2 separate regions of the Homo sapiens genome follow, and region 1 is linked to region 2. Evidence: fine-mapped expression QTL. A gene starts in region 2. The other region holds a variant in brackets. All regions are shown on one strand. Distances are from middle to middle. Region 1 overlaps TRNAU1AP (tRNA selenocysteine 1 associated protein 1). Region 2 holds the start of SNHG3 (small nucleolar RNA host gene 3).

What was found. PIP is the estimated chance that this variant, and not a neighbour inherited with it, causes the effect.
Region 1: its variant is fine-mapped to the expression of SNHG3 in whole blood (INTERVAL, PIP above 0.99).

What each region holds. Positions count from the first base shown.
Region 1 is chr1:28,570,877-28,576,252 of GRCh38, reverse strand. TRNAU1AP (tRNA selenocysteine 1 associated protein 1) reads right to left here. Exons shown (of 9, transcript NM_017846.5): 7 at 4,915-5,077; 8 at 4,353-4,386. Among named protein-coding and RNA genes, the nearest start is that of SNORD99, 5.3 kb to the left of the region's middle. The variant A/G (reference allele first, on the strand shown) is at 2,174.
Region 2 is chr1:28,503,621-28,508,996 of GRCh38, reverse strand. It overlaps SNHG3 (small nucleolar RNA host gene 3), which reads right to left and starts at 3,054. Exons shown (of 4, transcript NR_036473.1): 1 at 2,913-3,054; 2 at 2,670-2,777; 3 at 837-869; 4 at 1-167. It overlaps RCC1 (regulator of chromosome condensation 1), which reads right to left and starts at 2,954. Exons shown (of 13, transcript NM_001381865.2): 1 at 2,913-2,954; 2 at 837-869; 3 at 92-167. It overlaps SNORA73A (small nucleolar RNA, H/ACA box 73A), which reads right to left and starts at 1,632; the gene lies at 1,426-1,632. SNORA73B (small nucleolar RNA, H/ACA box 73B) reads right to left here and starts at 439; the gene lies at 235-439. RefSeq lists enhancers at 889-1,654, 1,846-2,140.

The sequences.
Region 1 (5,376 bases), 67 kb before region 2:
GAGCCTAGGAGGTCGAGGCTGCAGTGAGGCATGTTCACATCACTGATCTCAAGTCTGGGCAACAAAGTGAGACTCTGTCTCAAAAAAAAAAAAAAACTGGGCACTGTGGCTCATGCCTGTAAACCCAGCACTTTGGGAGGCCGAGGTGGGCAGATCACAAGGTCAAGGGATTGAGACCATCCTGGGCAACATGGTGAAACCCTGTCTCTACTCAAATACAAAAAATTAGCCGGGTATGGCAGTGCACGCCTGTAGTCCCAGCTACTCGGGAGGCTGAGGCAGGAGAATCACCTGAACCCGGGAGGCAGAGGTTGCAGTGAACAGAGATGGCACCACTGCACTCCAGCCTGGCGACAGAGCAAAGACTCTATCTCAAAAAAAAAAAAAAAAAAAAAAGCCAGGCGCAGTGGCTCAAGCCTGTAATCCCAGCACTTTGGGAGGCCAAGGTGGGCGGACCACCTGAGGTCAGAAGTTTGAGACCAGCCTGACCAACATAGAAACCCCATCTTTATGGGGTTAGAAAAATAGAAATAGAAAATTAGCTGGGCATGCGAGATTGCGCCACTGCACTCCAGCCTGGGCGACAGAGCAAGACTCCGTCTCAAAAAAAGAAAAAAAGAAAATTAGCTGGGCATGATGGCGCATGCCTGTAATCCCAGCTACTCGGGAGGCTGAGGCAGAAGAATCACTTGAACCCGGGAGGCGGAGGTTGCAGTGAGCTGAGATCGCGCCACTGCACTCCAGCCTGGGCAACAAGAGTGAGACACCGTCTCAAAAAAAAAAAAAACAAAAAAAAACATTGGGCCTGGCGCAGTGGTTCACACCTGTAATCCCAGCATTGGGAGGCAGAGGCGGGCGGATCATGAGGTCAAAAGATAGAGACCATCATGGCCAACATGGTGAAACCCCATCTTTACTAAAAATACAAAAATTAGCTGGGCGTGGTGGCGCGCATCTGTAGTCCCAGCTATTCAGGAGGATGAGGCAGGGGAATCGCTTGAACCTGTGAGGCAGAGGTTACAGTGGGTCGAGATCGTGCCACTGAACTCCAGCCTGGTGACAGAGCAAGACTCTCAAGAAAAAGAAAACAAAAAAAGGATTAAAAAGAGATTGGAAAATTCTAAGGACTTATCTACAGATATTATGAGGCTAATTATCTCTAGAAAGAAGGCAATGTCTCCCAGGGGGAAACAACTAGAGACTTGAATATAAAAAGACCGGACTGTCCTGACTTTGCCCCACACTGTGTGACCCTCAGCAGATCACTTGGGCTTTCCGAGCCACTAGTTTCCCATCTGTGAAATGGAGCTCCTGTGTCCTTCCCAGCCCACCCCACAAGGTCACTACAGTTGGCATCACATGAGAGGACACAAGAAAGTGCTTTAAAATGTTATGAACTAGACAAGTTTGTTCATGCCCTAAAAGGGATCTGTTTCCTTTAACGAACATTTTCTTGACAGAAAACATTTTCCCTATGACTTTCTCTTGAAGACGAATCCTCAAAACAGATTTCAAACTTTGAGTCTTTTTGTACCTCAAAAAAAGTTTTGGCCAGGAGCAGTGGCTCATGCCTATAATGCCAGCACTTTGGAAGGCCGAGATGGGCAGATCACTTGAACCTAGGAGTTCAAGACCAGCCTGGGCAACATGGTGAAACCCTGCCTCTACAAAAAAATAGAAAAAAATAGCCAGTTATGGTGGGGCACAACTGTAGTCACAGCTCACTGAAGCCTCAACCTCCTGGGCCCAAGCAATCCTCCTGCCTCAGCCTCCCCCAAGTAGCTGGAACCACAGGCCACCATGCTTGGCTTTCAGTTTTTCTTTCCTTTTTCTTCTGTGAAATTCAGTGAAAATTATAAATACTTGGCCGGGCACAGTGGCTCATGCCTGTAATCAAAGCACTTTGGGAGGCTGAGGCGGGAGGATTACTTGAGGTAAGGAGTTCGAAACCAGCCTGGCCAACATGCTGAAACCCTGTCTCTACTAAAAATACAAAAATTAGCCGAGCGTGGTGGTGCATGCCTGTAATCCCAGCTACTCAGGAGGCTGAGGCAGGAGAATCACTTGAACCTGGGAGGCAGAGGTTGCAATGAGCTGAGATTGGAGACTGCACCACTGCACTCCAGCCTGGGTGACAGAGCAAGACTCCGTCTCCCAAAAAAAAAAAAAAAAA[A/G]AGAGATGGGGTCTCGTTATGTTGCCCAGGCTGGTCTCAAAGTTCTAGGCTCAAGCCATCCTCCAACCCACGTTGGCCTTCCAAAGACCTTACAGGCTTTAGCCACCGTGCCTAGACAGTAAATACTGTTGTTTTTTTTTTTGAGACGGAGTTTCACTCTCGTCACCCAGGATGGACTGCAATGGAGCATTCTTGGCTCACCGAAACCTCCATCTCCCGGGTTCAAGTGAGTCTCCTGCTTCAGCCTCCCAAGGAGCTGGAATTACAGGCATGGGCCACCATGCCTGGATAATTTTTTTTTTTTTTTGAGACAGAGTCTTGCACTGTTGCCCAGGCTGGAGTACAGTGGTATGATCTCGACTCACTGCAACTTCCGCCTCCCGGGTTCAAGTGATTCTCCTGCCTCAGCCTCCTGAGGAGGTGAGATTATAGGCGCGCAACACCACGCCTGGCTAATTTTTTTATTTTTAGTACCGGCAGAATTTCACCATGTTGGCCAGGCTGGTCTAGAACTTCCGACCTTAGGTGATCCTCCCGCCGTGGCTTCCCAAAGTGCTGGGAGTACAGGGGTGAGCCACCGCGCCTGGCAATTTTTTTATTTTTAGTAGAGACGGGGTTTCACCATGTTGGCCAAGATGGTCTCGATCTCTTAACCTCATGATTCACCCTCCTTGGCCTCCCAAAGGGCTGGGATTACAGGGGTGAGCCACCGTGCAAGGCTTAAATATTTTTAATTAAAAAATTAATAATGGGCTGGGCACGGTGGCTCACCCCTGTAATCCCAGCACTTTGGGAGGCGAGGCAGGCGGATCACGAGGTCGAGTTTGAGACTAGCCTGGCCAAGATGGTGAAACCCCGTCTCTACTAAGAATACAAAAATTAGCTGGGCGTGGTGGCATGTGCCTGAAATCCCAGCTCTTCGGGAGGCTGAGGCAGGAGAATCACTTGCACCCGGGAGGCGGGCTTGCAGTGAGATGAGATTGCGCCACTGCATTCCAGTCTGGGTGACACAGCAAGACTCTGCCTCAAAAAAAAAAAAAAAAGAAAAAGAAAAAATTAATAATGGCTATTACTATGTTGTAATAGGATATGGGGTGATTTTCAGTTTCATTATACTTTACTATATTTTCTTTTTCTTTTTTTTTGAGACGGAGTCTCGCTCTGTCTCCCAGGCTGGAGCCCATTGGTGCGATCTCGGCTCACTGCAAGCTCTGCCTCCCGGGTTCACGCCATTCTCCTGCCTCAGCCTCCCGAGTAGCTGGGACTACAGGCGCCCATCACCACACCCGGCTAATTTTTTCTATTTTTTAGTAGAGACGGGGTTTCACCGTGTTAGCCAGGATGGTCTCGATTTCCTGACCTCACAATCCACCTGCCTCGGCCTCCCAAAGTGCTGGGATTAGAGGCGTGAGCCACCATGCCTGGCCCATACTTTACTATATTTTCCAAATTTTCCATCCTAACGATGACTTAAAAATCAGGAAAATATGTCTTTTAAAATATATTGAAAAACAGAAAAAAAATAAAATAAATAAAAAATGAATTTTACAAACAGTCAAACAAATAAAAGGTAACAGTATTATCGGCCAGGCACAGTGGCTCATGCCTGTAATCCCAGCACTTTGGGAGGCTGAGGCGGGCGGATCACCTAAGGCTGAGAGTTTGAGACCGGCCAAGCCAACATGGAGAAACCCTGTCTCTACTAAAAATACAAAATAATTAGCTGGGCATGGTGGTGCATGCCCGTAATCCCAGCTACTCGGGAGGCTGAGGCAGGAGAATTGCTTGAACCTGGCAGGTGGAGGTTGCGGTGAACTGAGATCATGCCATTGCACTCCAGCCTGGCCAACAAGAGTGAAACTCCACCACACACACACACAAAAAAAGGGTAACAGTATTATCGTTAGAGGCCCACATACCAGGATAGAATGCCACATGTCAAGGGGGTGATGGGCTCTCCTGGAGCTGCCTGTCCCAGGCTCTCTGGGATCTACACTTACACCTCTGGGTAACACCCGACACATCTTACCATAATTACATATTTGTCTGGCTCTCTAACCAGAATGTAAGTTCTTCCAGAGCAGAATTTATCTTGTCTTCCCTCTAGCTGAGAGCACAGTGCCAGCCACAGCAGTCACCTGATAATGGCTGACAGAGTAAGGAACGTATGAACCCTTACCTTCCAATGCATCATCTCCAACTTCTTCATATGTCTGCCAAGAGACCAGAGATGTGGGTTAGGGGCATGGTGAAATCCTGGCCCAGGACCACAGTGGCTTATATTTTTTATTTTTTTTGAGGTGGAGTCTAGCTCTGTCACCCAGACTAGAGTGTAGTGGCGTGATCTCGGCTCACTGCAACACCCGCATCCCAGTTTCAAGAGATTCTCCTGCCTCAGTCTCCTGAGCAGCTGGGATTATAGGCGCCTGCCACTATGCCCAGCTAATTTTTTGTATTTTTAGTAGATACAGGGTTTCACCATGTTGGCCAGGCTGGTTTTGAACTCCTGACCTCAGGTGATCTACCTGCCTCGGCCTCTCAAAGTGCTAGGATTACAGGTGTGAGCCACTGGGCCCTACCCACAATGGCTTATTTTTAACAAGAGGAACTGGACTGCTTCAACTTTCCCTATTTTTTCTGAAGCCCAAGCCCCTGTCCTTACCAATCCCATCCTAGAGAATGACCTGTTTCTAGAGGAGAAACACAACCCAAGGGGACCAGTCTTGCCAAGTCATGGTTACCTGCATGGTGCTCTGGGTATAGCCATACTGGGGGTAACTGTAGCTGTAGCTGCCTGTGTTCTGGTCATAGCCCCACTGAGCATAGTAGTTCTGGTACTGCTGATAATACTGGTTGTAGCTATAACTGTACATCTGACTATATTCCACTGGCTTTACACGGCTCCTTAAATGAAGACAGAAACAAAAATAAGTGTAAGCAAACATTTCCGTAACACTGCCTATGTGGCCACAGACTATTTTAAGTGCTTTATACCGATTAACTTTTTTTTTTCTTGAGACAGAGTCTTGCTCTGTTGCCTAGGCTGGAGTACAGGGGCGCAATCTCGGCTCACTGCAACCTGCGCCTCCCGGGTTCAAGCGATTCTCCTGCCTCAGCCTCCTGAGTAGCTGGGACTACAGGTGTGTGCCACCACGCCTGGCTAATTTTTTGTATTTTCAGTAGAGACAGGGTTTCACCATGTT
Region 2 (5,376 bases):
CAAAAGGAGGCATGAAATGCACCTCAATCTTTTGCTCCAAGTCTGCCAAAGATTGTCAAACCCTCCCTGTTAAAAAAAAAAATCAGTTTACCTACTCTCCCTTCTATATAAAGGACCCTAAAATTAAATGTCAATGCCAAAATGCGAAGTGCAGATCGTCTTCTCTCCTAAAAGAAAAGAAATAATGATTAGACTCCTGAAGATCCTACTTCAACTTAAAATCTAGTATACTAGATATGTTTCCTGCATGGTTTGTCTCCCCAGTCATTGTCCACAGGACTCTGGGAAGCTGTAGGAATATGCAGGCGCAGACACGAGGCCCAGCTTCATCTTCAACGTTGTGGAAAGGGACTGTACATCATGGGGCAGAGCCCTAAGCTCCCCTATGCCACTTGGACAGAGCCTGGGGAGAGTGACCTCCCAGGGTATCCACGTTGGAATGCTCATTAGTGAGGAATTGGAGTAACCGACAAATCCAATATTGCTAATCACCCACAGTATTTTCAAGGGCTAGTATCTTTCTCAGCTCAGGCTACACATGTAGATAAAGCCAATTAGGCTTCCTACAGTTCACTAGGGCAGCTTTTACTACTTTGCACTTTTAATGAGCTGACTAAAAAAAGCAATTTTTACAGAACAGAGCATATGTTGAAGTTATGTCAACATGCCTACAAAAATGCAGCAAAGTCGATATTTGGCTATTGCTCTGAGAATGATTAAATGCCTCAGAGGTAAATCCTGACCAACTAGAATAAAAGTCTCTTCAATCCTATTTCCATTACAGAAATCATTGACAAAGAGCTGATAAGCAAAAAACAATTAGCAGATTTACTCACCAAATAAGAGTTACTTGGAATCCTTAACAAATCCTGCAAAACAAGATATTAATCTATTAGTACAGCAAAACCCTAAACTTTTTCAACGAGGGGCCTCATGCTATCGCCTGGGGTTGGAGTACAGTGGCACTGGAGTATAGGTTTGAGTATAGGTCACTCCTGGGCTCCAGCGATTCTCCTTCCTCCAGCTACCTATCATCATGCCTGGCTACTTTTTAGCCAATTTTTCTTAAACATGTATTAAGACTTCAATCCAGCCAGGTGTGGTGGCTCACGCCTGTAATCCCAACATTTTGGGAGGCCAGAGGCTGGCGGATCACAAGGTCAGGAGTTTGAGACCAGCCTGACCAACATGGTGAAACCCTGTCTTTACTAAAAATACAAAAATTAGCCTGGCGTGGTGGCGGGGGCCTGTAATCCCAGCTACTCAGGAGGCCAAGGCAGGAGAATCACTTAGCATAATCACTTGAACCCGGGAGGCAGAGGCAATGGAGTGCGCCACTGCACTCCAGCCTGGGCAACAGAGCGACTCCATCTCCAAAAAAAAAAAAAAAAAAAAAGACTTCAATCCAGATTCAGTGCTCTAGAAGGCTGTTTCCTGCATGGTTTGTCTCCCCAGTAATTGTCGACAGGACTCTGGGAAGCTGTAGGAATATGCAGGCGCAGACACGAGGCCCAGCTTTATTTCCAACGTTGTGGAAAGGGACTTGTACATCATGGGGCAGAGCCCTATGCTCCCCTACGCCACTTGGACAGAGCCCGGGGAGAGTGACCTCCCGGGTGTATCCACGTTGGACAATCAGTGTAACGCATAAATTTACAGAATCCAATAGGAAACAATTTCATCCATTCATGTTACTACAGATCTTAAACAAGAAAGCAAACGAGTTTCCACCCTGTCCACAGTGGGGTGTTAAAAAAAAATCGGTTTCTAGACTGGTAACATGCATATTCAGCTATTCTAATTACTTTACAATAGGCGGTTAGTACTATGTGGAAGGTACCGCAGAAGCAAAGACAACAATTAGGCCCAGCTATCCTAAATTCAAATGAAACACGTGGACTTGTTAATTACCCCCAAATCGGCCAGGCACGATGGCTCACGCCTGTAATCCTAAAAATATAAAAATAAAAATGACCCAAATCACAAAAATACGAGAAAGCATAATTACGAAACGCAATGCTTCCAAATTATGAAAATCTTCGGCCTGGCGTGGCGGACCACAAGGTCAGGCGTTGGAGACCAGCCTGGCCAACATGGTGAAATCCCGTCTCTACTAAAAATACAAAAATAAGCCAGGCGCGGTGGTACACGCCTGTAGTCCCAGCTACTCGGGAGGCTGCGGCAGGAGAATTGCTTGAGCCCAGCAGGCGGAGGTTGCAGTGGTGCGATCAAATAAAAAGAAAAATTGAGAAAATTCTTAAAGGCAAATGAGGATCCAGAATAAAACTGTGTGCAATTATATTGAGAACGACAATGTGCCTACTATGAGGCAGTAAGATAAACAGTGGGGGTGGCGGTGCACCTTCAGAGGCTCGCTGGGTCGGGCGGCAGCCCTGCGGGTCCCGAGGTCTCCATGGCCCACTTCTGGCCCAGGCCCGTCTAACGCGTACTTTAGAGTTGGGACCGATGCCGCCTAAGACACCCATATATAGTTTTAAATTACATGATTTCCGGCCAGGCGCGGTGGCTCACGCCTGTAATCCCAGCACTTTGGAAGGCCGAGGGTGGTGGATCACCGGAAATCAGGAGTTCAAAACCAGCCTGACCAACATAGCGAAACCCCGTCTCCACTAAGAATACAAAAATTGGCCGGGCGTGGTGGCACGTGCCTGTAATCCCAGCTGCTGGAGAGGCTGAGGCACGAGAATCGCTTGAACCCGGCAGGCGGAGGTTGCAACGAGCACTGCAGTCCAGCCTGAGTGACAAACCGACTCCGTCTCAAAAAAAAAAAAAAAGTAAATAAATAAAATACTATATGATCTTCCTAGGGAAGCTCGGCTACTGATCTATAGCATTAGACCCACAACTCCGGTGGCAAGCATCTGATCACACTTACCAAGGATCACACTTACCAAGGAGAAGAAGCGACCACTGCGAATCTGTCTCCAAAAAGGAGAGAGAAAACGCGAAGCATCCTTTTTAAACCTTACGAAGTGCCCGGAAGTCCTGGAATGTCTATTGCGCGTGCGCAGAAGCATGCGCAGTTAGAGAATCAGAAACTCACTGAGGCTTCTGGGAATCTACTGCAGATTGAGCCCCACCCCTTCCTGGCTGGGAGGCCTCTCGCGGTAGTGGATCCTTCCCGCGGGACCTTGCTGGGGAATGTACGTTACAGAAATAGGTTTGTAGGTATGTAGCTGCAGAGGACGTTTACTTCTGTGCAATCACTGGACTCAGTCTGTAGGATATGCCCTTAGATAAACTGGCCAAAAAGTTTTTGGAAGAGTCGAACGCGGTGGCTCACGCCTGTGATTACAGCAGCTCTGAAGGCCGTGAGGGGCGGATCGCTTGAGGCCAGGAGTTCGAGACCGGCCTGGGCATCATGGCGAAACCCCGTCTCTACAAAAAATACAGAACATAAGCCAGGCATGGTGCCGCGCACCTCCAGTCCCAGCTACTCGGGAGGCTGAAGCATGAGAATCGTTTGAACCTGGGAGGCGGTGGTTGCAGTGAGCCGAGATCGCGCCGATGCACTCCATCCTGGTCGACAGAGCGAAACTCTCTCTCCAAATAAATAAGTAAAACGTTGGAATAATAAGAATGCAGAATGAAAAAAATACATATAGAGAAATACGGAGTATCAAAAGGAATTGAATCTGCTCTGTCACCTGTGAAAGAAATAATTTGATAAATGTGAAGGTAAATAAGATGAAAGTGCCCCTAGACGAATCAGATAAAAGTTTAAAAACTCCAGGCCTGGCCCGGATAAAAATAAATAAAAATAAAAAATAAAAAACTCCATTGCACAACAGTGTGAATGAATGTAATTAAAAGCACTGCCCTATACTCTTTCTTTTTTTTTCGAGATGGAGTTTTGCTCTGTCACCCAGGCTAGAGTGGAATGGCGCGGTCTCGGCTCACTGCAACCCCGGCCTCCCGGGTTCAAGCGATTCTCCTGCCTCGGCCTCCCCAGTAGCTGGGATTACAGGCGCCCGCCACCGTGCCTGGCTAATTTTTGTATTTTTAGCAAGACGGGGTTTCACCATCTTGGCCAGGCTGGTCTCGAACTCCTGACCTCAAGCAATCCACCCGCCTCGGCCTCCAAAGTGCTGAGATTACAGGCATGAGCCAGCGCACCTGGACTTTTTTTTTTTTTTTTTTTTTGAGACGGAGTCTCGCTCTGTCGCCCAGGCTGGAAGGAAGTGGTGTGATCTCGGCTCACTGCAACCTCCACCTCCCAGGTTCAACCAGTTCTCCTGCCTCAGCCTCCCGAGTAGCTGGGACTATAGGCATGCCACCATGCCCGGCTAATTTTTGTATTTTTAGTAGAGACCGGGTTTCACCATGTTGGCCAGGCTGCTCTCGAACTCCTCACCTCAAGTGATGCCCGCCTTGGCCTCCCAAAGTACTGGGATTACAGGCCTGAGCCACCACACCTGGCCCCCTATACATTTTAAACTAGTTAAAAATGGCAAGTTTTATGTATATTTTACCACACACAAAACCCTCTGAATATGAAGTAGGCAAGTAAAGAATGCTTACGATATATATACATAAGAAATGTTGCAAATATGATGGAATTTTTAGTGTGGTGTAAGGTGGAAAAACGTTGGCTAGAGAGACAGAGCTATCACAGCTGGGCTATCTTGAGTAGTAACGTTTATGGTGTTCCTCCTACATATTAGATTTTGTTCTGAATGCTTTATTACGTACATTATTTACTATCGCAGCAATTCTTTTTTTTTTTTTTTTTGAGATGGAGTCTTGCTCTGTTGCCCAGGCTGGAGTGCAGTGGCTCGATCTTGGCTCACTGCATTCTCTGCCTCCTGGGTTCAAGCAATTCTCCTGCCTCAGCCTCCCGAGTAGCTGGGACTGCAAGCAAGTGTCACCATGCCCCACCAATTTTTGTATTTTCAGTAGAGACGGGGTTTCACCATATTGGCCAGGGTGGTCTTGAACTCCTGACCACGTGATCTGCCCGCCTTGACCTCCCAAAGTGCTGGGATTACAGGCATGAGCCACCGTGCCCGGCCTACAAATTTTTTTTTTTTTTTAGATGAAGTCTCACTCTGTCCCCCAGGCTGGAGTGTAGTGGTGCGATCTCGGCTCACTGCAACCTCCGCCTCTCAGGTTCAAGCAATTCTCCTGCCTCAGCCTCCTGAGTAGCTGGGATTACAGGCGCCCGCCACCATGCCCAGCTAATTTTTGTATTTTTAGTAGAGACGGGTTTTCAGCATGTTGGTCAGGCTGGTCTTGAACCCCTGACCTCATGATCCACCTGCCTCGGCCTCCCAAAGTGCTGGGATTACAGGCTTGAGCCACTGCGCCCGACCCCGGCCTACAAAATTTTAAAAAAAATGTTAGCTGAGTGTAGTG